4 linked regions of the Homo sapiens genome follow. The protein of the gene in region 1 interacts with the protein of each later gene in a pairwise test. Each region holds a gene or a part of one and is shown in the gene's direction. Other genes may lie near its edges. The genes, in order: KIF9, ZNF436, IKZF3 and ALAS1.

Region 1 (7,871 bases):
AAATTCAAAAATTAGCCATGCATGGTGGTATGTAGCTATAATCCCAGCTACTCAAGAGGCTGAGGCAGGAGAATCGCTTGAACCTGGGAGGCGGAGGTTGCAGTGAGCCAAGATTGCGCTACTGCCCTTCAGCCTGGACAACAGAGCAAGACTCTGTCTCAAAAAAAAGAGAGAAAAAAAAATACACACACACACACACACACACACACACTACTGAGCATTTACTACATGATTATTTGAAGTACATTAACTAATTGAATCCTCAACACTCAAGTAGGTGGTGATGTGCATTTTACAGACGAGACAGAGAATCACCAGTGTTTAAGGAAGCTGCTCATTTTCACAGCTAACAAGTGGCAGACCCAGAACTCAAACGTAGGCAGTGTGGCTGCAGAGTCTGTGTGATACCGCCTTTCGGACTGATGATCAAGGAACAGCAAAGCTCTGAAGGAAAAAGATGCAGAGAGAGACAGCACATTAGAAGGGTCAACAAAATTTTAGAAGGGTCAACAAAATTTTAGAAGAAGAAAAGAAGACACATGAGTAGTAACTGACTTAGAGGATACTGAGTATTGCGGATGGCAAGCCACTGAAGAATCCCCTCCAAAATGGAACCACTGGAGGTACCAGTTTCCTCTGAAGTTGTGAGCAAGAAGAAGGGCCGAAATCAGGAAGTACTGGTCCCCCTCCCCAGACAAGCAACTGCAGAAGACTGGAGGTTTACTCTTCAGACAGGATGAACAAGAGCCTCTGGATCTGGGTAACCAGGGCACCACAGAAGACAAGGAAGTGGTACCATTTAGGGGGATTAAGTGAAAGTCTGCATACAGAAGGGAGAACCTCCAGACCTCTCCTACCATAAGGCTCCCAAAATAACAGCCAGGCTTATACCACCTAGGAAGAAGCCTGGAGGAAGATCTACGGACTTTGAACACATCCCACAGAAAAACGACAGGTCCATCACCCTACAACCATGGCTCTCAGAACGTGGTCCCAGACTAACAGTAGCATCACAGGGGAACCTGTCAGAAATATGAGTTTTCAGATCCATGCCAGACCTAATGAATCAGAAATTCTGGGTGAGGTCCAACAACCAGCGTTTTAACAAGGCCACCAGGTGATTCTGACGTCCACTGAAGTTTAAGAACCACTGCCTGACAGGGAGGCCCACCAGTCAAGAAAACATCTCACACCCAAAAGCTTCCAACCAGTTTTTCAGTGTCTGTTTACTTGAAAAACACTGTGGAGTCACCAGAAAACTGAAGGAAGACTTTGACAAGAAAGAGAGACAAAATAGATTTCCCAGGACAGCTCTGGTGGCAAGTAGTGAAATGTGCAGAGCCTGGTTTGCATGCTCTTTCCCCGGTCCCACCATTATATTGCTACAGAGCTACTCCTTGGGCTCTACAATAAAGTTTTCAAAATCAGTGAAGTAAATGCTCTCTACAGTCCCGTCCAGCTCTAGCCCATGCGTTTATACTAGTCCTTCCCACTGAAGGCTTTTTATTAAAGAGAGAAAAAAATAAATATACTGGTCCTTATGTTCTAGATCCCTGAAGCTAACACAGCAATTCGGGCTGACCGTCTCAGTTGAAACTACGTCTGATTCTTTTTTTTTTTTTTTGAGACAGGGTCTTACTCTGTTGCCCAGGCTGGAGTGCAGTGGCACGATCTCGGCTCACTGCAGCCTCTGCCTCCCAGGCTCAAGTGATCCTCCCACCTCAGCCTCCTGAGCAGCTAAGAAAGACTAAAGGTACACACCACTACAGCTAATTTTTTGTAGAGATGGGGTTTCACCACGTTGCCCAAGCTGGTCTCAAACTCCTGAGTTCAATGCAATCCACCTGCCTCGGCCTCCCAAAGTGCTGGGATTACAGGCGTGAGCCACTGCACCCAGCCATGTCTGATAATTTACTTGTCCCTTTGAATGAACAAGCAATATTCTGCTAAAAGATTACCATATTCAGTATCTGCATTAAATGTACTATTAATACTTTATGTAGAAGTATCTGTGACCATCCCACGCTGCCACGCCCTTTTTGATTCCCTGTGTCTTGTAAGATTCCCCTGGTTCACCCTTACAGCCTAAATCTTTTTTTTTTTTTCCCCAATAGAGACGGGGTTTTGCCATGTTGCCCAGGCTGGTCTCAAACTCCTGGGTTCAAGCGATCCACTCGCCTTGGCCTTCCAAAGTGCTGGGATAATAGGCGTGAGCCACGGTGCCCAGCCTACAGCCTAAATTTTAATCTAGAAATTCACACCTATTACTGCTTTTCACTAGTCTCTATTTACACCAAGTGTTGCTGCCAAAACCGGATCATTTTTCTGCTTACAAGTTTCTAGTGGCCTTAACATCTTCTACCATGTAATCACTGTGGACAAAAACTTCTAATTTACTTTTACTTCCTCTGCTTCCTTTAGTCTAGCTCATTTTTTCTCAATTCTCTTGGTTCCTCTTTCCCATATGAGAAGATCTCACGCCTTCTCAGATCACTTCACTCCTCTCCTGGAAAAACAACCTCCTTCAGGAGGGGTTTAGAATGATGAAAAGGGCCGGGCTTGGTGGCTCACGCCTGTAATCCCAGCACTTTGGGAGGCTGAGGTGGGCGGATCACGAGGTCAGGAGCAGTCTGGCTAACGTAGTGAAACCCTGTCTCTACTAAAAACACACACAAAAATTAGCCGGGCGTGGTGGCGGGCGCCTGTAGTCCCAGCTACTTGGGAGGCTAAGGCAGGAGACTGGCTTGAAGCCAGGAGGTGGAGGTTGCAGTGAGCCAAGATCATGCCACTGCACTCCAGCCTGTGCCACACAGCGAGACTCTGTCTCAAAAAAATAAAAATAAAAGCAAAAAAACCGAGGCTTACAGAGATTAAGTAACTTGCTCAAGGTTACAACTAGGATTTTAATCCAAATCCTTCTGCTTTCAAAGCCATACTCAACCATCCTACTCTACCATCTCCAGAGGTCTGACTCAACTATGTTGCAGAAGAAAAGTTTCCTTAACCATGTAGAAAATAAGAAGAGCAGGCTGGGCGCGGTGACTCACGCGTGTAATTCTAGCACTTTGGGAGGCCGAGACAGGCAGACTGCTGAAGCTCAGGAGTTCGAGACCAGCCTGAGCAACATGGTGAAACCCTGTCTCTACTAAAAATAGAAAAAATTAGCCAGGGGTAGTGGTGCGCGCCTGTAGTCCCAGCTGCTGGGGAGGCTGAGGCAGGAGAATCGCTTGAACCCAGGAGAGAGAGTTTCAGTGAGCCAAGATAGCGCCACTGCACTCCAGCCTGGGCAACAGAACGAGACTCCGTCTCAAAAAAAAAAAAAAAAAGAAAAAAGAAAAGAAGAGCAAAAGAATCTCTGCATAGTTTTATTTTTTCTTTTATTTATTTATTTGTGTGTGTGTGTGTGTGTGAGAGAGACAGAGAGAAATAGGAGAAATAGGATCTTGCTGTGTTGCCCAGGCTGGAGTGCAGTGGTGTGATTACAACTCACTGCAGGCTTGACCTCCTAGGCTCAAGCGATCCTCCCACCTCACCCTCCTGAGTAGCTGGGACTACGGGCACAGGCTACCATGCCCAGACAATTTTTTATTATTTGTAGAGACAGGGTCTCCCTACATAGCCCAGGCTGGTCTCCAATTCCCCCACTCAAGTGATCCTCTCGCCTCTCAAAGTGCTGGGATTACAGGTGTGAGCCACCATGCCTGCCCTGTTTGTTTTTTAAACAGGGATCACGCACAGATGCTGAGAGCTTTCCAGCTAAAGCCCAACAGGGAGCCCCACTGATCATCTCCCCAACCGGACGTCTCCACATGGTTCGGTGGCTTGGCCAGGCAGCAGCACAGCATGCCTCTTCCTCATGAAAAGACCCAGGCACAGGAGGGAGGCTGGCTCTAGCGACCAGAATGCTGGTGGGGAACAGGTGGTTAAGATATCTTTCCCTCTTAATATCAGTCAGCATCCCTCTCCCCACGCGGCCAGCAGGCCCAGCCCCGGGGACCTTTGTGGTGGTGAGTGGTGCCTTCCAGTATGGGGCAGGGTGGCTTCCCACCTCAAAAATTTTCCAGAGAAGATTTTAAAAGCTCTTAAGAGACAAAGTAGTAATTCAACAATTAAGGGCAATGATTCCTAAGGAGAAGCCTTCTCTTCTAGAACAGCACAGCCAAGTTCGACAGGCACAAAGAAATATCTGTAGTGACAAGAGAAGGTTCTTCAGTGGTGCCCATCAGCATGTGGAGCCGGCCACCGCCCCTGCCTCCATAGAAGGTAAGTCCATTTTCTCTTGTCTGCATGACAGAAAAAGGAGGCTGTCACCCGTGTCTCCCACTCCAAGGGCCTAAGCGGCGCACCTCTCAACCTTTCCTTTCAAGGGCTGAAAGGTTGTCCTCTTCCTCTCCCCACTCGGCCCCGATCCCCTTTTGCTCGGCACCTCTCTCCCCACTACTCGGCCCCCCTCACACCTCTTCTCCCCACCCCTCTCCCTGCTAGACCTCTCTTTCTCTGTCCCCCGCCCCTTTTTACTCCCCGCTCGACCCCTTTTCCCTCAGCCCGCTGCCGCCCAGTCCGCGGTACCTTGAGGGTCACGTCGCACAGCTTGCCCTGCCGCCGGATCTCCTCCATGACGCCGTAGCCGCGACTAGGCAACTCAGACACGGAGAAGTGCACCAGATCCTCCAGCTCCTCCGCGCCGTCCTCCACCATCTTCCCCGGCCGCTGCAACTGCGCAGGCCTCGCCGGCCGGCTAGACACTAACCAGGGCGGGGCGATAGCGCACGCCGACAGCCGCTCGGAGCGCGGAGCAGCAATCGGACGGGCCTCCGCGGCCGCCGTAGTTGAATCTCCTCGGCGCCGGAAGCCCCGCCACTCCGCTTCCTGGTTCATGTGCGGCCTTCGTTCCCTCGCTATCTCGACCTTGACTTCGCATGTGCATCCGCCGAAGTCTTTCTAGATCAATCGGCCCCATCTCTCGTCTTCCCGATTCGGCCATGACCTCACCCGTATCCTCGACGTAGGACCTCGGACTTCATTTCCGCCACCCCGACACTTCCGGAATCCCCGGAAGCGACCCGTTGCCATGGCGACTATGTACACAGCCAGGCAGCCCCGCGTGGGGAGTGCAGGTGGTTTCGGTTGCGGCAGTCGCGTCCCGGGAGCGTCGCTGCCTGGTGAACGGTGAGCAGGGGCTGCTCGCCGGTGGGAGTGGGGAGACGGGAAAAGGGTGTGCGCCCGGACTGCTGAAAGTGGCTGGGGTCCAAAAACCGCTTTATCTGGGGGTTCCCAGCTGGGTCGCTCATCTCTGAAACCCAGGCGAAGGAGGGCTCGACGTCGCGGGAGTCCTTTCAACCTGACCGCGGCTTACGGTCTTCGGAGCTAATGTTCATTGGTCCCACAAAGGGGTCCCACGTCGCGTCCAGGACATAGAGGCCGTGAGGCAGGGAGCCAGAGGTCGTCTGGACTCTTCCGTACTAGTCAGTTTTCGAACTAGAGGGGGCTTTGGGATCACCAGTCGGAGCCCTTCGTGTTACAGGTGAGGAAACCTCTCCAGAGAGGGACCGGAATGGGTCCAAAGCCCACTGCCGCCCAGGCTCCACGCGGGGGTCCGGCACATTGGGTGAGAAAAAGGAGAAAGTCTAGTTTTGCCTGCATCCTAGTCTTGTTCAGCCAAGGCCAGGTGCAGTTGGACCCAGTGTTTTGGATTCGGGTGTTGGTGCTGCCGCTACGGGTAGCTATGAGGGTTCCCCATGACAGCCCCTCATCTGGACGGGAGCACTGGAAGATAGGGACCCACCTGGTGCCTTCCACCCCACCAAACGCTCCCTTTCCTCTTGTCTAGTCTTCATGGCTGCTTGTTGCCAATTCTGTTCATTCCCACTAAAGACAAATGAGGAAACCTCGAGCGCCTTAACACAGAAGTCTCCTGGTGGCCATTCAGAGACTTGCTTTGTTATACCAGAAATATCAAAGGGTGGTTCCCCAAGGAGAGACATTCCCCACAAGGTCCTGAGGGAGAAAGGGAGGGGGCCGGGCGCCGTGGCTCACGCCTGTAATCCTAGCACTTTGGGAGGCTGAGGTGAGCGGATTGCTTGAGCTCAGGAGTTCAAGACCAGCCTGGGCAACATGGCGAAACCCTGTCTCTACGAAAAATACAAAAATTACCCGGGCGTGGTGGTGCACGCCTGTAGTCCTAGCTACTTGCGGGGCTGAGGTGGGAGGATCGCTTGAACCCAGGATGTGGAGGCTACGGTGAACCGAGATTGTTTCACTGCACTCCAGCCTAGGTGACAGAGTGAGACCCTGTCACAAAAACAAATAAACAAAAAACAAAAACAAAAACAAAAAAAGCGTGTGGTGAGGTGCTGGATGTGGATTTTTGCACCTGGAAACCAAGTGTCCTCCTGGAAGGGCTGTGGGCTTTGGTTGGAGTTGTCATGGAAGGGGAGTGACATCATATGCCCCTTGGGACTCTCTCAGTAGTGACTGAAGATAGACCCACATATGAAGATTCAGCTGCCCTCTGACTTCCAGCCATTACCATCACCAACCACCGCCATTTCCTGAATACCTACTCTGTGCTGGGCTCTGCCCTGGACATTGTGAGGGGATTCAAAAGAGATAAAAAGCACAATCCTTGCCTTCAAGCAGCTTGTAATTTAATTTTGGGAACTGAAACCCACTCAAATGAAGCGACGTAAGAATGGTAACAAGCAGTATTTCAGTAAGTGCAAGATGGCATGGGGTCCCTAAATGTTTGGGTGTTAAAGGGCTGCTGAGTAGCAGGCTCACAAGACGGGTGTGCAAAGGAAGACTTTATTGCAGGTGGATATGGCTCCTGGCCTGCTTGGAGCCATGGTGTCAGCATGGGAGGGCCTTGGGAAGCATACATGGGGTGACTGCGTGTGCATGTGCATGTTGGCAAATAGCAGGGCAGAGAAGGGCCAGGCTCTGGAGGGAGAGTGATGCTTTTGCTTATTTGTTTTGTTTTGTTGAGACAGTCTCACGCTGTTGTCCAGGCTGGAGAGCAGTGGTGTGCCATCACTGCTCAAGTGATCCTCCTGCCTCAGCCTCCTGGGAAATTGGGACCACACGCGTGCACCACCACACTTGGCAAATTTTTAAAATTTTTTGTAGAGACAAGGTCTTGCTGTGTTACCCAAGCTGGTTCCTAATTCCTGGCCTCAAGCGATCCTCCCACATTGGCCTCCCAAAGGCTGGGATTACAGGCGTGAGCCACCATGCCCAGCTGAGGTTGATGCTCTGAACTGGCCTGTGCTACTCTTGTGCAGGGGCTTCAGGGAGAGAGGCCTGGGCACCTGCTCCCAGAGCTCCCCTGCTTCTTCATGGTCCCTTTCGGAGCATACCCTGGATGGCATCTGAATTTCCCTGGGCAGGAGAATGGGCCCTTGGATGTGAAGAGTGGTTCCCCGGTTCCCCAAGCTTTAGAAATTGAGTGTGAGGCTGAGGTGGGTGGATTGCTTGAACCCAGGAGTTTGAGACCAGCCTGGGCAACATGTTGAAACCCCATCTCTACAAAATTGCAAAACGTTAGCCGGGTGTGGTGACACACACCTGTCCTACCACTACTCTGGAGGTTGAGGTTGAGGTGGGAGGATTGCTTGAGCCTGGGAGACAGGCTGCAGTGAGCTGAAATCACACCAGTGCACTCCACCCTGAGAGAGAGATCGAGACTCTGTCTGAAATAAATGTCTCAAAAATAATAAATAAATAAAATCTGGAATAACTTTTGTCAGGTAACACCCATTGGACCTCTCTTAGATAATTTTATATAAAATGATCCGCTGAGGTGGGCAGATCACGAGGTCAGGAGATCGAGACCATCCTGGCTAACACGGTGAAACCCCATCTCTACTAAAAAT
Region 2 (7,024 bases), on another chromosome or scaffold:
AAAAAAACTGCTTCTGCACGTCTTAGACGTTCAGATTTCTTGTGCCCTGAGTCATTTTCCAATCTCCAGCCTGTTTGTACAGATCACTGACCAAACAGGTCTGGCATAATAGTGCTTGCCAGAATATAAATGCCCCGTAACTAGTGCTTTTACTCTAGGGTGCTAAAAGATGAGGGGATTCTAACCCAGGTTCATGGGAGGGCGAAAGCCACCTTTTTGTGTTTGTTTTGGCTTCAGAGCCCTAGCTTTGCCTCAAGTTCCTTAGCTGAGTAGATTCTCATCTAGAGATGTTTCAGTGTTGATGATGATAGATTTGTAGTGTGTCAAATGCTGTTCCAGAAGAATGCTGAAATAGATCACAAATTCTATTAGAGAGGGCAGCTGATTTTTTTTTCATGGTCTGCAAGCCTGTCTTCTCTCTTTGCTGTACTTTGGTCTGGGTGTAACTAGAATAAAGAGTATATTCTTGAGCTGAACGGTCTTTTGACTCACTTTGCCTCACTTTGCCTCCTGTCAAGACTTGACAGACATTAGCAAGCGTGTATGGGTCACTAGGTCATTTGCCATTCATTAGGATTAATCCTGTTTTTGAAATCTTTATTCCCATAGCCTTTTTCAGAACAAAAGGCAACTCTGAGGGCTTTCCTTTTTAACTTGAGCTTTCTCTGATGTCCCTAGTTTCTTGAATCCTTTCTTTATAAAAGTAACCATAAATAGTTATCTATCCAGATCTATTGCAGTCTGTAACCCAAATATTCCACTGAATCCAACAAAAGCAAAAAATGACAATCTTTAAAAAATGTGAATTTACAATTCTACAGTTTAGCCCCAAAAGCACTTGTTAGAAGGATGAAAGCGCCAAAAAACTGGTTTCTTGCCCAAATAAGTTTGGGAATGGGAATGGGTTTAAAAATGATTACAAGGCTTTTTTTTTTTTTTTTTTGAGACAGGATCTTGTTCTGTTGCCCAGGCTGGAGTGCAGTGGCACGATCACAACTCATTGCAGCCTTGACTTCCCAGGCCCAGGTCATCCTCCCATCTCAGCTTCCTGAGTAGCTGGGATCACAGATGCGTACCACCTTGCCCGGCTAATTCTTTTTATTTTTTAAAAAATTTTAAATTAATTAATTAATTAATTAATTTTTTTGAAACAGAGTCTCAGTCTGTTGCCCAGACTGGAGTGCAGTGGCCCAATCTTGGCTCACTGCAACCTCTGCCTCCTGAGTTCAAGCAATTCTCCTGCCTCAGCCTCCCGACTAGCTGTGATTACAGGTGCATGCCACCACGCTCAGCTAATTTTTGTATTTTTAGTGGAGACGGGGTTTCACCATGTTGGTCAGGCTGGTCTTGAACTCCTGACCTCAAGTGATCCGCCCACCTCGGCCTCCCAAAGTGCTAGGAATACAGGTGTCAGGCACCATGCTCAGCTTCTTTTTATTTTTTTATTATTTATTTATTTTTTTGTGAGATGGAGTCTTGCTCTGTTGCCCAGGCTGGAGTGCAGTGGCGCGATCTCAGCTCACTGCAAGCTCTGCCTCCCAGGTTCACGCCATTCTCCTGCCTTAGCCTCCTGAGTAGCTGGGACTACAGGTGCCCGCCACCACACTCGGCTAGTTTTTGCGTTTTTTTTTTTTAGAGATGGGGTTTCACCGTGTTAGCCAGGATGGTCTCGATCTCCTGACCTCGTGATCTGCCCACCTCGGCCTCCCAAAGTGCTGGGATTATAGACGTGAGCCACCGCGCCCGGCCTGCCTCTTTTTATTTTTAATAGAAGTGAGACCTCCCTATGTTGCACAGGCTGGTCTCAAACTCCTAGGCTCAAGTGATCCTCCTGCATCAGCCTCCCAAAGTGCTGGGATTAGAGGCCTGAGCTACTGCATCTGGCCTTATAAGGCCTTTTTACCTCAGGATTCCTTAGAACCTTTAATGTGTTATTAGGCATTGTGAATTTTGAAGGAAATGATATTGTATGTACCATTTACCAACCCAGTTTATCCATGAACCCTTTTCTCCCAAAATACATACTTTCTTTCTGAAGAGTGTACTAAGAAACCCAATTTGGAGAATGCAGTGTCTGGTATAAAACTCCTTGTAGACAGTGGTTGTGTATTTTGATTTTCATTTGAAGACTGCATGTGAAATATACTTAGACAATGCCAAGAATGTTCTCAGCCAGACATCTTTTTTGCCTTCTTCAACTTTCCCACTCCTATTTTCATTAAAAGGTCACTGAAAAGTAGGAAGTGACATTTGTCAGTCACTTTTCTGTCAACTATGACATAGGTAAAGATTCATTTTTCTCCATATTAACATAGTTGGTTCTGGCCAGGCACGGTGGCTCACGCCTGTAATCCTAGCAGTTTGGGAGGCTGAGGCGGGCAGATCACCTGAGATCAGGAGTTCAAGACCCGCCTGGCCAACATGGTAAAACCTGTCTCTACTAAAAATACAAGAAAATAGCTGGATGTGGTGGCGGGCACCTGTAATCCCAGCTACTCGGAAAGATGAGGCAGGAGAATCGCTTGAACCCAGGAGGCAGAGGTTACAGTGAGCGGAGATTGCGCCATTGCACTCCGGCCTGGGCAACAAGAGTGAAATTCCATCTCAAAAAACAAAACAAAACAAACAAACAAACAAAAACATAGTGGCTTCTTAGTAAATATTTTATGATGCTACTAATGATGAAGGCTTGGCAAGTTAAAAAATACATACTCACAAAATACCTAGAATCTTGCCTTTTAGATATTCTAATTTAGAGTCTCATATTTTCTGCTTCCAGTGTTCTTTCAAAACACGAATATATATAGTTTTTTTTTTAAGAGACAGGGTCTCGTTCTGTCACCCATATTGGTGTGCGGTGGCACAATCACAGCTTATTGCAGCCTTGAACTCCTGGGCTCAAGTGATCCTCTTACCTCAGCCTCCTGAGTAGCTGGGACTACAGTTGCATGCCACCACATCCACCTAATTTTTTAAATTTTTTTGTAGAGATGGGTTCTCCCTATATTGCCCAGGCTGGTCTTGAACTCCTGGCCTTAAGTGTTCCTCCTGACTTGGCCTCCTAAAGTGTTAGGATTACATGCGTGAGCCACGGCACCTGGCCTGTATAGTTTTCTTAATGAATCATTAATTACAGCGATACAGAATGTGAATTTTGACAGACCTGAGTTTGAATACTGGCTCTACCATTTACTATGGCCTTGAGCAAGTCAATTCACTTGTCTGGGTCTTGGATTTCTCATTAATGAAGTAGAAATAATCACAATTCCTGACTCTCAGAATAGCTGTGATAAAGAATATATGTGACGAAGAATATAAATAATTTAGGCTGGCCACAGTGGCTCAGAAGTTCAATACCAGCCTGACCAATATAGTGAAACCCTGTGTCTACTAAAAATAAAAAAATTAGCCGGGCATGGTGGCGTGCACCTGTAGTCCCAGCTACTCAGGAGGCTGAGACAGGAGAATTGCTTGAACCCAGGAGGCAGAGGTTGCAGTGAGCCAAGATCACACCACTGCACTCCAGCCAAGGCAACACAGTGAGACTCTGTCTAAAAAAAAAAAAAATTTAGTATAGTGCCTGGCACACAATAGGTAATTTTTGTACTTACTAGTCTTATTGTTTACTTTTTATTACAGATTTTGAGATCAGGAGTGAGAACGAGGTAAATCCCAAGCAAGAGATTAGTGAAGATGTACAATTTGGGACTACATCTGAAAGACCTGCTGAGAATGCTGAGGAAAATCCTGAAAGTGAAGAGGGCTTTGAAAGCGGAGATAGGTCAGAAAGACAATGGGGAGATTTAACAGCAGAAGAGTGGGTAAGCTATCCTCTCCAACCAGTCACTGATCTACTTGTCCACAAAGAAGTCCACACAGGCATCCGCTATCATATATGTTCTCATTGTGGAAAGGCCTTCAGTCAGATCTCAGACCTTAATCGACATCAGAAGACCCACACTGGAGACAGACCCTATAAATGTTATGAATGTGGAAAAGGCTTCAGTCGCAGCTCACACCTTATTCAGCATCAAAGAACACATACTGGGGAGAGGCCTTATGACTGTAACGAGTGTGGGAAAAGTTTTGGAAGAAGTTCTCACCTGATTCAGCATCAGACAATCCACACTGGAGAGAAGCCTCACAAATGTAATGAGTGTGGAAAAAGTTTCTGCCGTCTCTCTCACCTAATCCAACACCAAAGGACCCACAGTGGTGAGAAACCCTATGAGTGTGAGGAGTGTGGGAAAAGCTTCAGCCGGAGCTCTCACCTAGCTCAGCACCAGAGGACCCACACGGGTGAGAAACCTTATGAATGTAACGAATGTGGCCGAGGCTTCAGTGAGAGATCTGATCTCATCAAACACTATCGAGTCCACACAGGGGAGAGGCCCTACAAGTGTGATGAGTGTGGGAAGAATTTCAGTCAGAACTCCGACCTTGTGCGTCATCGCAGAGCCCACACGGGAGAGAAGCCATACCACTGTAACGAATGTGGGGAAAATTTCAGCCGCATCTCACACTTGGTTCAGCACCAGAGAACTCACACTGGAGAGAAGCCATATGAATGCAATGCTTGTGGGAAAAGCTTCAGCCGGAGCTCTCATCTCATCACACACCAGAAAATTCACACTGGAGAGAAGCCTTATGAGTGTAATGAGTGTTGGCGAAGCTTTGGTGAAAGGTCAGATCTAATTAAACATCAGAGAACCCACACAGGGGAGAAGCCCTACGAGTGTGTGCAGTGTGGGAAAGGTTTCACCCAGAGCTCCAACCTCATCACACATCAAAGAGTTCACACGGGAGAGAAACCTTATGAATGTACCGAATGTGAGAAGAGTTTCAGCAGGAGCTCAGCTCTTATTAAACATAAGAGAGTTCATACGGACTAAGCTGTAATTATGATGGCTGAGAAATGATTCATTTGAAGATACAATTTTATTTGATATCAATGAACGCCCTCAAGACTGAGCTGCTTTTATCATACTCTCCTAGTTGTGGGCCACGATTTAAACCATCAGAGATGACAAGCCATTTGAAATTCTGACCCTCAGCTTTGGGAATGTTATCTCCTCCAAAATGGTGATTTTTATTCACTCAATGGGTTACTTCATTAAAAGCAGCCCCACAAGTAACTGGAAATCTGAAGACCAGGGGACAAATGCTGGTGAATGCTTAGGCCTGGAAATGGAGTAAATCTTTCAATGTTATTTTCTCCCATCCTTGGCCCAAGGAACTATGCTAAGTGAAACGTGGGACTGTAATAGGGTGGTAATGGCTGCTTTGGAAAAAGGCAACTAGAGACTCTGCCTAAATTGCCACACCTATTCACACACCATAGTAGTTGGGCACACACATCTTCCCTTCCAAAGGGCTTTTTCCTTGAGTTGCTCATGCATTTGTATCTTTTCCATCTTCCTGAGGGCAAGATTTTGCACGATGAAGGCAATGATTGTAACTTTTCTCCTTCTCATTGTTTCTAATTAGCTCCTTTAAAGCTTGCATCTTTGTGAAGGCTAACTGAAGATACGGTTGGAAAGGAAAAATGAGACACAGGTTTGGGGACCAAGGACCCATCAATGATGGTGACTTTAGCAGAAGATGCCCACAGTTATTACTGCCATTAATCAGATTTATGAATTTTCTTTGGGGATCACTATAGGGAATATTGTATAGAAAATATCTTCAAGAAAAGATAGGACCATCAGTGACAGTTAAGTGTAAGGAGCAAGTGGAATTGAGTCCTTCAGGGAAGGAACCACAGAGTCCCTTCCCAAGGAATGTAGGTCGTTTCTGTGTTCTTTCCCTTCTAATCTTTAAGATCAACTCTTCCTATCCTGCTAACTCTAAGATTTGATAAGGGCCACATCCCAGTGTTTATCTTAGCTTGCATCAGGGCATGTGTATGTACAGTAATGTGTATTCCTGTGGTTTTTCTAATAGAAACTGAATTTACAGAGACTTAGCATGTTCTTGGGTGATGTGAGTCATGTGACAGAAGTACAGACATAACTCCAATGTGAGAAATGTCCTTTTTTCATTATGGAAAATAATTTAAACACTAGTGCTTTAGTGTGCACTCTCCTGTAAGGTCTGTCTTTGTACAGAGCTAAGCACTTGTTTGTATGTGTTTGTCAATTGTGGAAGATAATGACCAGACAAATAGGTCGATTGTCCTATTCTCAGAATGAATTATCTTCTATGGTAATGAAGAACTCTTTGGCTTAGTCAGAAGGAATTAACGAACCTCGGTAGGAATGTATTTCCATCCTCCCACCCTACAGATATAAGAGGTTAAAATAACAGTTCGCCCAATTTAAGCCCAGTAGTGTCAGTTTTCCTAATCTCAGTCCAGGTAGGAATTAAGAAATATCTCAAGTGTTGATGCTATCCAAGCATGTTGGGGTGGAAGGGAATTGGTGCCCAGAAAATGGGACTGGAGTGAGGAATATCTTTTCTTTTGAGAGTACCCCCAGTTTATTTCTACTGTGCTTTATTGCTACTGTTCTTTATTGTGAATGTTGTAACATTTTAAAAATGTTTTGCCATAGCTTTTTAGGACTTGGTGTTAAAGGAGCCAGTGGTCTCTCTGGGTGGGTACTATAATGAGTTATTGTGACCCACAGCTGTGTGGGACCACATCACTTGTTAATAACACAACCTTTAAAGTAACCCATCTTCCAGGGGGGTTCCTTCATGTTGCCACTCCTTTTTAAGGACAAACTCAGGCAAGGAGCATGTTTTTTTGTTATTTACAAAATCTAGCAGACTGTGGGTATCCATATTTTAATTGTCGGGTGACACATGTTCTTGGTAACTAAACTCAAATATGTCTTTTCTCATATATGTTGCTGATGGTTTTAATAAATGTCAAAGTTCTCCTGTTGCTTCTGTGAGCCACTATGGGTATCAGCTTGGGAGTGGCCATAGATGACCGCATTTCCATGACCTAACTGTATTTCACCCCCTTTTCCTTCCCTACTGTTCTTGCCCCACCCCAACCAGTTCCTGCTGCTGCTTTTGG
Region 3 (7,024 bases), on another chromosome or scaffold:
TTGGCAGTGGAAAATATTGAAGAATTTTGACAGGGCTATGACATGACCAGAGGTAGAATTTAGGAAGAGCAATCTTGTAGCAACAAACAAGACGGGCTGGAAAGGAGAAAGAAGGGAGCCAAAGAGAACAGTGCGGGGGCTACAGCAATAAGTAGATCGTGGGAAAGTCATAGGGTCTGAGAATTAGGTAATGGGCATGCAAAATACAGGAGTGGAGAAACAGATTAGAGATTGGATACACAGATAGAACCACTGAATGATTGAATGTGGGGCCCAATCAGGAGAAAGGAAAGATGACTCTAAGGATTCTAGCCTGAGTAACTGGGAAGATACCTAGGAAGCCTTCAGAAATAGAGGACTAAAGAAAGGGAGAGAGGTTACACCTGGAGTTATATATATGGAAATTAATCATATAAGATGTTAGTCGAAGCCTTAAGAATGAATGAAATTGCCATACAAGAGGGGTGTAGAGGGAAGAAAAAAGAAGGTTAAGGACAGTATTTAGGATGCAGAGGGAAGAAAAGGGGCAAGAAGGAAGCAATCAGAAAGGCAAGGAAAGAAGGTACATTTTCATTGAAGAAATAGGAGTGCAGGGGCCGGGCACGGTGGCTCATGCCTGTAATCCCAACACTTTGGGAGGCCAAGACAGGTGGATCACCTGAAGTCAGGAGTTCGAGACCAGCCTGGCCAACATGGTAAAACCCTGTCTCTACTAAAAATACAGAAATTAGCCAGGTGTGGTGGCACGTGCCTATAGTCCCAGCTACTCGGGAGGCTGAGGCAGGAGAATCGCTTGGACCTGGGAAGCAGAGGTTGCAGTGAGCCGAGATCGCACCACTGTACTCTAGCCTGGGCAACAGAGTGAGACTCTGTCTCAAAAAAAAAAAAAAAGAAAGAAAGAAAAGACATAGGAGTGCAGAAGAACAAGGAATGGTGAGTGGTCAGTAGTGTTGAGGATTACAAAGAAGTTGGAGAGAGTGGCATACAAAAAGGCTCTGAATCTAGGAATCAGGAGATTATGGTTGGTGATATTCAAGGGAGCAGATTAAGTGAATTGTGGAGGCGGAAGCCATATTACAGAGAATTCTGAGTCCTTTTTGAGGCTGTAGAGGCAGTAAGCATAGCTTACCTATGTCTTTTTTTTTTTTTCTTGAGACGGAGTCTCACTTTGTCACCCAAGCTGGAGTGCAGTGGTGGGATCTCAGCTCACTGCAACCTCCACTTCCCAGGTTCAAGCGATTCTCCTGCCTCAGCCTCTTGAGTAGCTGGGACTATAGGCGCACACCACCACGCCTGGCTAATTTTTTTGTATTTTTAGTAGAGATGGGGTTTCACCATGTTAGTCAGGATGGTCTCGATCTCCTGACCTCATGATCCACCCGCCTCGGCCTCCCAAAGTGCTGGAATTACAGGTGTGAGCCACCGCTCCTGGACCACCTGTGTCTTAAATCTGTCTAGAAAGGAATGTTGAGGCCGAGCGCAGTGGCTCACTCCTGTAATCCCAGCAGTTTGGGAGGCCGAGGTGGGTGGATCACGAGGTCAGGAGTTCAAGACCAGCCTGGCCAAGATGGTGAAACCCCGTCTCTACTAAAAAAAAAAAATTAAAAAAATAGCCAGGTGTGGTGGTGGGCACCTGTAATCCCAGCTACTCAGGAGGCTGAGGCAGGAGAATCGCTTGAACCAGGGAGGCAGAGGTTGCAGTGAGCCGAGATCACACCACTGCTCTCCAGCCTGGGCAACAGAGTGAGACTCTGACTCAAAAAAAAAAAAAAAAGAAAGGAATGTTGAGAGAGGATGAATTTAGGTATGATGTGATGAAAGGTGAAACCAAATTGCAAAAGGAAAGGAAAAGAGGAGTTGGCACCTAGAGAGCCTGAAGACATAGAGTTGATAGATCTTGGAGACTGACTTGATGTAGAAATTGAAAGAGAAAAGGTTCCACAGTTTGATGGCTTGGAGACTGGAAGAAGGGTGATGCCATTTGTCAACATAAATAAGTCATAAATTAGAAGCAAGTTTGGGTTCAAAGATGACAAGTTTGATTTTAGACATGTTCATTAGTATTTTCTAATAGAATTTTTCTAAGTAGAACACCCCTTTTCTCTGCTTCAATAAGTCTTCCAGGGAATGGGATGAATCTCTTCATTAGAGCAGGCTAATGCCTTTCCTGGTTTTGGTGGACTGTGTTTGGAGGCTGAGTACTAAGCCTAATATCTCTCAGGAATCTCATTCATACCTTAAATTCTAATTTATTTTATTTTATTTTATCTTTTTTGAGATGGCGTCTCGCTCTGTCGCCCAGGCTGGAGTGCAGTGGTACGATCTCGGGTCACTGCAACCTCCACCTCCCAGGTTGAAGCGATTATCCTGCCTCAGCCTCCCCAGTAGCTGGGAGCCACCATGCCCAGCTAATTTTCTATATTTTTAGTGGAGACGGGGTTTTGCTATGTTGACCAGGCTGGTCTCAAACTCCTGACCTCAAGTGATCCACCTGCCTTGGCCTCCCAAAGTGCTGAGATTACAGGCATGAGCCACTATGCCCAGCCAGCAATTTATTATGGCTTACCTTGAGAAGGTAACAGAGTTGAATATTAGAATAAATTAGAATCTGGTTGGACACGGTGGCTCAGGCCTGTAATCCCAGCACTTTGGGAGGCCAAGGAGGGTGGATCACTTGAGGTCAGGAGTTCGAGACCAGCCTGGCCAACATGGCGAAACCCCGTCTTTACTAAAAACACAAAAATCAGCCAGGCATTGTGGTGCATGCCTGTAATCCCAGCTACTCGGGAGGCTGAGGCAGGAGAATCACTTGAACCTGGGAAGCAGAGGTGGCAGTGAGCTGATCGTGCCACTACACTCCAGGCTGGGCAACAGAGCAAGACTATGTCTCAAAAAATAAAATAGAATAAAATAAAAATAAGTTGCTAATCCCCAGTAACCATGCAGAGAGGTCATCCAGGTCATTCATCTAAAACTGGTAAGACTCCAAAGGCAAACCAGCAACTATGTAAGCCCAAAGGACTTCTCTAATGCCCTGTCCCTGTGTCCTTATGTCCCTGGGTCTCAAATACTGTCTTCCTTGCTCTATAGCTGACTCCTAAAGGACTAAAGCTAAGATCTGCTCTTGAGCCAGGATGGTGTCGTATTGAATTCCAGGTCAGGCCAACTAAAGCCAAAATCCTGAGGGAAAGGAGCAGCTCTCTTATGTCCTCTGTTTTCAGAAAGACTCAACACATTGATCTTACTACATTTTAAAGTTCAGTGACCATGGAGTGGCCTGAGTCTGGTCATGTTCACATTTTCTAACCAAAATGGAAAGGATCCTTTTCTGCTGGCCTTTTCTATCTGCTGTTTTTGGTTTTAAGTAGCTGAAATTTTCCGTTGAGGTTCTTTTAAACGCCTACATGCAAACTGAAGAGCACTCAAGCTTTGGTGGGATATTACCCACAGCTGGAGTGATGGAGGAAGGGAGGCAAGTACAAGCCTCAGGTGCATCCTTCTCTTAAAAAAATAAAAAATAAACACTTAAGCAAACAAATTCCACTTGAAAGCAGGGAAGACCTATCCAGAGAAAGAAGTAAACCTCTTTCCAAGTAGGAAACAGATATCATTTCTTATATAATCCAGATCCATAGGGTGGGCAAATTTGAAACATGTTGGACTTATCCTACAGCCCTACATCTTTGCTAGTCAAAGAGTGAAAAGTTGTGAACCATGAACTGTGGTAGGAAGCAGTGGAACTGTGTGGCAGCCCTGGCTCCTCTGATGGTGGTTAGGCCCTGTCTTGCTCTATTAAGCAAACACAGTTAATATAGATGAAAGGTAACCTTGATAGAAGTGAAAATTGAAACTTGGGTTGAAGGTAGCAAGCCAGGCACAGCTGCAGTTGTACTTCCTCCTATGCAGCAAGAGGAGCAACACTTACTGATGTTTTTTGGAAGGGATGTAGTTTTTTAAAATATCTTTTTTCAGACTGTTTTGGGTTTTAACATTTACACCATTGATGGGAGGGTGTGTAATACAGTTGGTAAGAACCCACTTAGGCCTTATATGTCTAGTGCATGAGGTCAAATCCAAGTAATTGATAGTTCAAGCTTAAGTTTTGCATTCTAATCACACCTCTGCCAGTAACTGGATGTGTAACCTTCGACAAATGACCAAAAACATCTCTGCTCCCAGATTTCCTCATCTGAGAAACAAGAGGGTTGGATTAGATGACCTTTAAATTCCCTTCCAGCCCTACACTCCATTGATTTGTGATTCCTCATGGGGAGGTACAACTTTTGATTTCTAAGGACCAATGGTTGAAAAAGTAAGCATTTATATAGCATATTTTATATATGCAAAATCCCTTACAAATGTTTATTATTCTTACATCAGGCAAATTTTTAGGTTTTACTAGTGTCAGTGCAAGTACATAAATTTGCCTTCTTTGTTTCTTATGTTCTTCATATTTTTCCCACGTTCTTCATATGTTCTTATGCTCTTCATGAAGAGTATTACAGCTCTTCTTTTAAATTTCATTCATTTACATTGCAGTTCTTAAGATAGTACTTGGTCAGCCAACTCACTTGAGCCAGTCCCTCCTCTCCTATCCAGTCCTATTACACAATCCTTGAGTCCTTGAGTTTAGTTCTCCCTAACTTGGGACCTAATGGTCCTTCCCCTTATTTAGATTGAGCCCCACTTACCTGTGTCGATGAAAGTGACTCCTTAGGTTATATGAAAGAATTACTTTTCCTTTTGTCTTTCTCAACACTTTTTCATTAGTACTGACAACTTCCTCTACAGTCAATGTTGTGCCTTTATCAGCTCCAAGAGAGACAGAGATAAGATGTGTTTTAGCAATTCATATACGTGGAAGGGGAAGAGGCAATGCATGGCTTAAAATTAGAAAAACTATGTTAACTAGTCAACTCTTAATCTTAATGGCTTACACTGGATGCATCTGAAGGATTCAAACAATATTTTCTCCTTGAAACCTAAGAGTACATCACCTTGCCTTTTTAACTGCAGCCACCAAAAACAGTACTAGATCTGAGAACCCTTCCTCTCCCCTAGTACTGGAGAAGAGTTGCTCAATGTTTGTTTCATGGCCACTTTGAGCAAACTTAGCTAAAATCTATTATCTGTAATTTTCTGGATAGCCTAAAACACTATCGTCTATTTTTATGTGTGTAAGTATGTGTGTTTTCCTCTGACTGTGGTTCTGAATTTAAATAACGTGCGGTCACGCTAATGGTGCTTTCTTGTTTTGTAGATGTACAGTGTTTTGTTAGCTTCGATTGGTATTTAATTGTCAGTTGTGGGTCTCTGCTGTTTGAGCTGCTTTGATAGCTTCAAGTATAGTCGTTGTTCATTTCTTGCATTTTCTTCCCTGCAGATGATTCAATGAAAGTGAAAGATGAATACAGTGAAAGAGATGAGAATGTTTTAAAGTCAGAACCCATGGGAAATGCAGAAGAGCCTGAAATCCCTTACAGCTATTCAAGAGAATATAATGAATATGAAAACATTAAGTTGGAGAGACATGTTGTCTCATTCGATAGTAGCAGGCCAACCAGTGGAAAGATGAACTGCGATGTGTGTGGATTATCCTGCATCAGCTTCAATGTCTTAATGGTTCATAAGCGAAGCCATACTGGTAAATAGTCTGCTTTTTTCATTCTTCTGAAAACTCTCCTAATGCAGCCACGTGAGAAATGAAGTGGTGGAATTTGGAACTTTTGGTTACTTTCATTGATTTTTGCTATAATGCTGATGTATCTCTCTCTCTGCATTGCTGTTCACTCAGTGCTTTTTATTCCTGCCTCACCATGCATTTGGCAAACATATTGCAAATGCTATGAATAAAAAAAGACTGTAGAGAGCACAGTGTTCTAGGTCAGCCAAATACTTTTTCTTCAGTTTCTAAGTAGGAGTTGAATTGTGTGATTTGCTTCTTAGCCATCTTTTGTATATTTTTGCATAACATTTTTAATAAGAGCAGATCTTCTTATTGTATTGGGTTCAAATTTGGTAAATGAAAGGACATAGTTTTTATTTCCAGCTTAAAATAATGTATCTTCAGACAATAAACAGGTAGTCTATAGAAATGCATACAAACACAACCATCGCACTTGAGCCAGTCGATTCCATCCCATATCTCATATGAAGACTTTAAAAAGGAGAATTTCTAGCCCTCAACACCTTGTAAGGACTTTAGTTTCTGGCTCTTTTTTCAAAGGAGATTATATTCAAAAGGAATACTAAAAAATTAGCCAGGCATAATGGCAAACACTGGTAGTCCCAGCTATTCTGAAGGCTGAGGTGACAGGCTCACTTGAACCCAGGAGGTCAAGGTTTCAGTGAGCCATGATGGGACCATTGCACTCCAGCCTGAGCAACAGAGCAAGAAGACCCTGTCTAAAAAAAAAAAAAAAAAAAAAAGGGAGTACCAAGTAATATAGTAATATAAAAACTTAGATCTAGAAAGCACTTCTAGAGCTGCTCTTGTTTCTTTGCTCTGATTCAATATGATACCTAAAATAGCCTTGCTAGTGGGTGCTTTTTCTCTTCTACAGAGGAGATTTCATAAGTAAGTCTTAGGCTTGCCTTGAAATGCAGCTCCCAACTGATCCCAATGTGAACAGTAATTGTCTAAAAGATGAGCTTTTCCCCTAGGCATCTAATCTGTGCATATGTTTCTCCACTTGCCTGTGACCAGAAATCTCCTTTTTTGTCCTTTTTAAAGGTGAACGCCCATTCCAGTGTAATCAGTGTGGGGCATCTTTTACTCAGAAAGGTAACCTCCTCCGCCACATTAAACTGCACACAGGGGAAAAACCTTTTAAGTGTCACCTCTGCAACTATGCATGCCAAAGAAGAGATGCGCTCACGGGGCATCTTAGGACACATTCTGGTAAGTGAGAGAAATGAGCATTCCTTGTCTAGGAAGTGCATTCCTCAGAGCCCAGTGTGGAAACTAGAAAGAGTTAAGTAGGAAGGTTTCAATCTGTCATTCTTGTTCTGAAGGGTTACAACA
Region 4 (7,024 bases), 4.9 Mb from region 1:
GCTAGCCAGTGACTCACAGGAGTGTTCCAGAATGATGAAGAAAGACTTTTCTAGAAAGAAGGTGAATGAATTTGCTCAAGGGGAGAGGGAAGTCACTGTAGCTAGAAGGATAATTACCAGCCAACGGTGTTTAGTCAGCAGACTTTGATGAATTTAGATGAGAAAGTAGATGAGGTATGTGAATGTGATATACCCCTATTTTTTCTTACTTTATTAGCAATCTAAAGACCTAAGTCTTAGTCTAATTTCTGTTGTTTAGATGAAAACCAATAGCTTTTATGTTAAGCAACAGCAAGCCTCTTTGTCAAGAATCTGTTTAGAAAATGTCAGCAGAGACAGGATGTGGTGGCTCATGCCTGTAATTCCAGCACTTTGGGAGGCTGAGGCGGGAGGACTGCTTGAGCCTAGGAGTTTGATAGAAGCTAGGGCCACATAACAAGACTCCGTCTCTACAAAAAATAAAAAATAAAAAGAATTAGCTGGGCGCAGTAGAACACCTGCAGTCCAAGCTACTTGGAGAGCTAAGGTGAGAGGATCACTTGAGCCTGGAGGTCAAAGCTGCAGTTAGCTATGATTGCACCATGCACTCTAGCCTGGTTGACAGAGTGAGATCCTGTTTCAAAAAAAAAGGAAAGGAAAATGTTAGCAGAGAAAAAAATGTGTGTGAATATTTCCCGTTACCTTACAGAGTGTGTCCTCTCATAAAATAAGCTGAGTGTAGTTGGGGTAGAAATTACTGGAAATGATCCAACTCAAGGATTCCGGGTTGTCTAAAACTAGAAAATGGTACTTTTTTTGGATTTATGACGAGAAATACTGTGGGTTTAAGAGGCAACTGGAATGTGCCAGTTAACTCTTCATAGACGCATTGTTTCCTGTGAAGCAGATGAAAAACTAGAGAGATTAGCAGAACCTAATAAAAATAAGCTTGTGGCTGAGTGCAGTGGTTCACGCCTATAATCCCAGCACTTTGGGAGGCCAAGGCAGGTGGATAACCTGAGGTCAGGAGTTCAAGACCAGCCTGGACAACATGGTGAAACCCCATCTCTACTAAAAATACACAAATTAGCCAGGCATGGTGGCACACACCTGTAACCCCAGCTACTTGGGAGGCTGAGGCATGAGAATCACTTGAACCCAGGAGGTGGAGGTTGTAGTGAGCCAAGATTGTGCCACTGTACTCCAACCTGGGGTACAGAGCAAGACTCCATCTTAAAAACAAAACAAAACAAAAAAAACACTTGTGTCTGGATGGTGGGGTACAGTAAGTATTAAGTTTATCTTTGAGGCAATAAAAGAAAGAAATAAGTGGTTTTCTTACATACTGTGCAACCAGATCTGATGCTTCACTTTTTCCATTTCCTCCCTCAGAAGACAAAACTGCTAAGGCCAAGGTCCAACAGACTCCTGATGGATCCCAGCAGAGTCCAGATGGCACACAGCTTCCGTCTGGACACCCCTTGCCTGCCACAAGCCAGGGCACTGCAAGCAAATGCCCTTTCCTGGCAGCACAGATGAATCAGAGAGGCAGCAGTGTCTTCTGCAAAGCCAGTCTTGAGCTTCAGGAGGATGTGCAGGAAATGAATGCCGTGAGGAAAGGTAAGAGATGAGTTGTGAACCATTAGTGGTAGTGAAGGGGTCCTTTTAGTTCTTTTGGGCCCTCAGATTTGTGTATGAGCTATTATTAGGGCAGTATTTATGGAAACACCTTCCTCTTTTAGGGCCAGAGAGGAAGGTCTTCAAGATAGACAGTCAAGGGACTGTATTGCGAAAGTGGGACTTTCTTTCTGGTGCGTGTGTGGGATGTGACCAGCTTTTATAGTTACTACTTAATTTCTGAAAATAACCTGCAGTCTTGAGCTGCCACCAGCTGCCTTTTGTCCCTTTGGTCTTTCCCATCATCTGCTAGGATAAAGATAGAAAATAATGGTTTTACTGCAGTAAGTGCTGGTCCTAGGGCTCCCAAGCCGTGTGTCTTACTGATGGTCATTGAATTGCAACCTTAACTCCACAATATATAGGTGTGGCTATATCTGCAGAGAACTCAAGGCTCCCCAAAAGCCTAACCAGCAGAAATTATGCATATGGCCAAAATTGTTTTCTATGAAGAAAATTGAGATTAGGACCAGGCCCAGTGGCTCACACCTATAATCCCAGCACTTTGGGAGGCCGAGGCAGGTGGATCACTTGAGGCCAGGAGTTTAAGACCAGCCAGGCCAACATGGGGAAACCCCATCCCTACCAAAAATACAAAGATTAGCTGGGCATGATGGCGCATGCCTATAGTCCCATCTTCTCAGGAGGTTGAGGAGGGAGGATCGCTTGAACCCAGGAGGCAGAGGTTGCAATGAGTCGAGATCGTGCCACTGCTCTCCAGCCTGGGTGACAGAATGGGACTCTGTCTCAAAAAAAAAAAAACAGAAAATTGAGATTAGGATTGGGGTGGGGATGTAGTGGAGTGAATAAGACATGCCAACCAGCAAGAAAGCTTTGGACTTTATTGTTCATTAAAGCTGGCCAGTAGCTCTGAAAACAACACCAAGAGTCTGCCATTACAGTAACTAAAATAGAAGAGATGCTTTGTACACTCAGTTATAACTAACTTTGGTTATGCTTGGCCTTTTTTGTGAACTAGGCCATAAGCCATTTTTGACAATATGTTTGGAAGATATTGTGAACTCAGAATAGAAAGTTGGTCCCATTTGTTTCTTGTTACTTTTGTTCCAGAGGTTGCTGAAACCTCAGCAGGCCCCAGTGTGGTTAGTGTGAAAACCGATGGAGGGGATCCCAGTGGACTGCTGAAGAACTTCCAGGACATCATGCAAAAGCAAAGACCAGAAAGAGTGTCTCATCTTCTTCAAGATAACTTGCCAAAATGTAAGTCTCATTGTTATTTGCCTGATGTAGAAAAGAATTTATAATTCAAATGTACATTAGATTAAATATAAAATTGCATGGTGAGGCTGGGCACAGTAGCTCATACCTGTAATCCCAGCACTTTGGGAGGCTGAAGCGGGAGAAGATCACTTGAGGCCAGGAGTTTGAGGCCAGCCTTGGCAACATAGCAAGACACTATCTCTACCAAAACAGTTTTTTTAATTAGCCAGGCATGATGGCTTGCATCTATAGTCCCAGCTACTCAGGAGGCTAAGGTAGGAAGATTGCTTAAGCCCAAGACTTCAAGGTTCAGTGAGCTATGATCACGCTATTGCACTCCAGCCTGAATGACAGACAGAGACTCAGTTTCTAGGAAAAACAAAAAAATGTATGGTGAGTTGAGGCTTGAAAGCCATATCCCTTGCTTGCGTGAGCAGGTGCTTTTGGTTGTGGTGACTACAGGTGCTGTTGGTAGCCTGCCTTCTGTCCTTTAATACTTACCGTCTACACATGGCACTGAGCCAAACACGACATACAGTCTTATTTACTTACAAGATGAGGACATCAAATAACCTGCCCAGGATCTCCCTCAGTTGCCAAGCTGAGACTTGTTGTATTTCACCAAAATGCAGCTGTGTTTCACAACCACCATTCTGTACTGTCTTTTGTTCAATTTTTAGCTGTTTCCACTTTTCAGTATGATCGTTTCTTTGAGAAAAAAATTGATGAGAAAAAGAATGACCACACCTATCGAGTTTTTAAAACTGTGAACCGGCGAGCACACATCTTCCCCATGGCAGATGACTATTCAGACTCCCTCATCACCAAAAAGCAAGTGTCAGTCTGGTGCAGTAATGACTACCTAGGAATGAGTCGCCACCCACGGGTGTGTGGGGCAGTTATGTAAGTAGCCCTTGGCTTTCAAATATTACTGTTGTTATTTGGCAAGCCAATGATGATGTATAGGGGTTGGATCTTTTATGGAGGGAACATTCAGTAGCTGAAAGTGTGCCATAGCAAAATACTATTCTTAGCTTCTGAAAAATATCTACAGATTACTTTTAAAGGAACTCTAATATGCAGGTAGCTGCTGGAGCCCCTTAACTTGTGAGGGTTCAAGCTTATAGGCTCAATGACCACACACGTCAGTCCACTTTCTATCACTCTGCAAGTGAGTGTGCCTTTAACACCAGGCAGTCTTTCACAGAGACATCCTTGGTTGTGGCTGTGAGTGGAGAAATACGAATCTAGCAGCGCTAGAGAAAAAGCTACTCCAAAAGACATGTTAAAAAGGATGGTAGATCCCATCACTCGTCCTTCAGGAGGCTCACCATCCTAGGGATGCTGGAGAGAGTTGCTGGCCAGATTCTCCAAAGGCTTGCTAAAGAGGGTCCCGGTTTGAGGTTTAATGATAGTGATATATCCAAACATTACATGACTGGCTTGCAGAGGGTAACCACCATCCAGGATGTCCCTCTAGAGTTTGCTTTTTCTTAAGCTAACATGTTATTGGAAAGAATAATGTTTCTCAGAAAATAAACCTTAGTTTCTTAGAAAAGAAACTCAGCTAATACCAAGCACTTACTGACTGTTAAATGAACACTTGTTCTTGATGATTCCTGGAGGTATCATCACCCTAGCATTGACACCTTCTCCCACCTAGTCTGAAGATGAAATCAGTTGAAATTTCTGACCCCAGGTTTCACAGTGAGAGAGTTGCTACATCAACATGTTTCAGTCTCCTGGATCCTAGAAAGGGGAAAAAATTCACATGGTGTTGAGAACCATGAGCTTTATTTTCTGGTTTTGTTTGTATTTTTAAACAGGGACACTTTGAAACAACATGGTGCTGGGGCAGGTGGTACTAGAAATATTTCTGGAACTAGTAAATTCCATGTGGACTTAGAGCGGGAGCTGGCAGACCTCCATGGGAAAGATGCCGCACTCTTGTTTTCCTCGTGCTTTGTGGCCAATGACTCAACCCTCTTCACCCTGGCTAAGATGATGCCAGGTAAGGAAGCCTGGCATGAGTGCCTTCGAGTTTTTTGGGTTTCTTAGTAATAACAAGAATATTGGCAACAAAGAAGCCTTACCAGAACCTCTCAATTGAAAATCATAATCCTATCTGGGCATTTGTTCTGGGGTCAAGCATGAAATGCTGACTGTACATTATGGGTTCCAGGAGAACGTGATACCAGTGAAAATTCAAACTTGAAACGTCTCATCCTTGAGCTAATTGCCTCAAATATGTTTTGTATTCTAAGATGATCCTTTGGAGAAGTCTCTTAATCATTTAGTTAGCTCTTGATTGAGTTTGGAGTGAGGCAGTCAGATTTAAGAGCAGATTAATGGCCTGCCACAAGGTTATTCTACACCTTTGGGCCTTCTCACAAGGGAAGCACTAACTAGTTATTTTGCCAGGAAGAAACTGGCACACAGTGTCTTTTTCCTACTAGGCATTTTCAAAGCATCATTTCCAAGGAAAAGTCTGTTGTCTTTCTCTAGGAAATAATTTGTCTTCGATGCACATGGCAATAAATAGCATTTTTGTTGTCTTAGGCTGTGAGATTTACTCTGATTCTGGGAACCATGCCTCCATGATCCAAGGGATTCGAAACAGCCGAGTGCCAAAGTACATCTTCCGCCACAATGATGTCAGCCACCTCAGAGAACTGCTGCAAAGATCTGACCCCTCAGTCCCCAAGATTGTGGCATTTGAAACTGTCCATTCAATGGATGGTAAGTGTGGATAGAGGTTCCTCTGAAACCTAAGATGAAAAACTATGCCTGAACTCTTTAAAAGTATGGTGTTTTGTTGTGTTTTTTAATTTTTTTTTTTTGTGACCGATCCTCGCTCTGTTGCCCAGGCAGGAGTGCAGTGGTGCGATCTCGACTCACTGCAAGCTCCGCCTCCCGGGTTCACGTCATTCTCCTGCCTCAGCCTCCCGAGTAGCTGGGACTACAGACACCTGCCACCACGCCTGGCTAATTTTTTTTTTTTTTTTTTTTGAGACGGAGTCTCCCTCTGTCACCCAGGCTGGAGTGCAGTGGCGTGATCTCGGCTCACTGCAAGCTCCACTTCCTGGGTTCACGCCATTCTCCTGCCTCAGCCTCCTGAGTAGCTGGGACTACAGGCGCCTGCCACCACGCCCAGCTAATTTTTTGTATTTTTAGTAGAGACAGGGTTTCACCATGTTAGCTAGGATGGTCTCGATCTACTGACCTTGTGATCTGCCCGCCTCAGCCTCCCAAAGAGCTGGAATTACAGGTGTGAGCCACCGCACCTGGCCTAACTTTTTGTATTTTTAGTAGACGGGGTTTCACTGTGTTAGTCAGGATGGTCTCAATCTCCTGACCTTGTGATCCGCCCACCTTGGCGTCCCAAAGTGCTGGGATTACAGGCGTGAGCCACCGCGCCTGGCCTGTTGTGTTTTTTAATTTTCTTTTCCTTTCTGCCAGGATTTTTTTTTTTCTTCTTCCAACTTTTAGGTTCAGTGGGTACATGTGCGGGTTTATTATATGGGTAAATTATGTGTCACAGGGTGTTGGTGTACCAATTATTTCATCACCTAGGTAGTAAGCATAGTACCCAATGGTAGTTTTTGATCTCACCCTCCTCCCACCCTCCACCCTCAAGTCGGTCCCTGGTGTCTGTTGTTCCCTTCTTTGTGTCCATGTGTTCTCAGTGTTTAGCTCCCACTTATAAGTGAGAGCGATATTTGGTTTTTCCGTTCCTGTATTAATTCACTTAGGATGGCCTCTAGCTCCATCCGTATTGCTGTAAAGGACATGGTCTCATTCTTTTTTTATTGCTGTGTAGTATTGCATTCTGCCAAGATTTGTAATTGGTGGACTTTTTTCTAATAGATTTGGGTGAAAGTGGATTTTCTATTCTGGCTTTTACTAGGCTCTGGGACCCCAGGTAACCTAGAAATTAGAGGAAGTTCATTTTCTTTCCAATATTGAAAATGATACCTTAGAATAGAAGTTTACGTTGTTCTGACTCTAACCAAAACAGAAATTTCTGAAGCGGCAAAAGCTCTTCAGAGCAGTCTCTGGTCTTTCCTCAGGGGCGGTGTGCCCACTGGAAGAGCTGTGTGATGTGGCCCATGAGTTTGGAGCAATCACCTTCGTGGATGAGGTCCAC

Evidence for each region.
Region 2: the proteins of KIF9 (region 1) and ZNF436 interact in binary tests that used the Homo sapiens proteins (3 or more experiments, as listed by UniProt).
Region 3: the proteins of KIF9 (region 1) and IKZF3 interact in binary tests that used the Homo sapiens proteins (3 or more experiments, as listed by UniProt).
Region 4: the proteins of KIF9 (region 1) and ALAS1 interact in binary tests that used the Homo sapiens proteins (3 or more experiments, as listed by UniProt).

Annotation. Positions count from the first base shown.
Region 1 is NC_000003.12:47,279,793-47,287,663, reverse strand, and holds the start of KIF9 (kinesin-like protein KIF9), read left to right. Parts: upstream 1-4,864; 5' UTR 4,865-5,071; coding exon of another isoform or gene 5,072-5,169; exon of another isoform or gene 5,170-5,524; intron 5,525-6,468; exon of another isoform or gene 6,469-6,675; coding exon of another isoform or gene 6,676-6,712; intron 6,713-7,871. Other genes in the region: KLHL18 (kelch-like protein 18), read right to left, coding at 4,570-4,698. UniProt on the Homo sapiens protein: Essential for normal male fertility and for progressive motility of spermatozoa.
Region 2 is NC_000001.11:23,359,837-23,366,860, reverse strand, and holds part of ZNF436 (zinc finger protein 436), read left to right. Parts: intron 1-3,639; coding exon 3,640-4,892; 3' UTR 4,893-7,024. UniProt on the Homo sapiens protein: May be a transcriptional repressor.
Region 3 is NC_000017.11:39,791,293-39,798,316, reverse strand, and holds part of IKZF3 (zinc finger protein Aiolos), read left to right. Parts: intron 1-5,383; coding exon 5,384-5,644; intron 5,645-6,733; coding exon 6,734-6,901; intron 6,902-7,024. UniProt on the Homo sapiens protein: Transcription factor that plays an important role in the regulation of lymphocyte differentiation. Plays an essential role in regulation of B-cell differentiation, proliferation and maturation to an effector state.
Region 4 is NC_000003.12:52,201,136-52,208,159, forward strand, and holds part of ALAS1 (5-aminolevulinate synthase, non-specific, mitochondrial isoform 1 precursor), read left to right. Parts: intron 1-1,371; coding exon 1,372-1,599; intron 1,600-2,727; coding exon 2,728-2,877; intron 2,878-3,557; coding exon 3,558-3,780; intron 3,781-4,703; coding exon 4,704-4,888; intron 4,889-5,436; coding exon 5,437-5,616; intron 5,617-6,947; coding exon 6,948-7,024.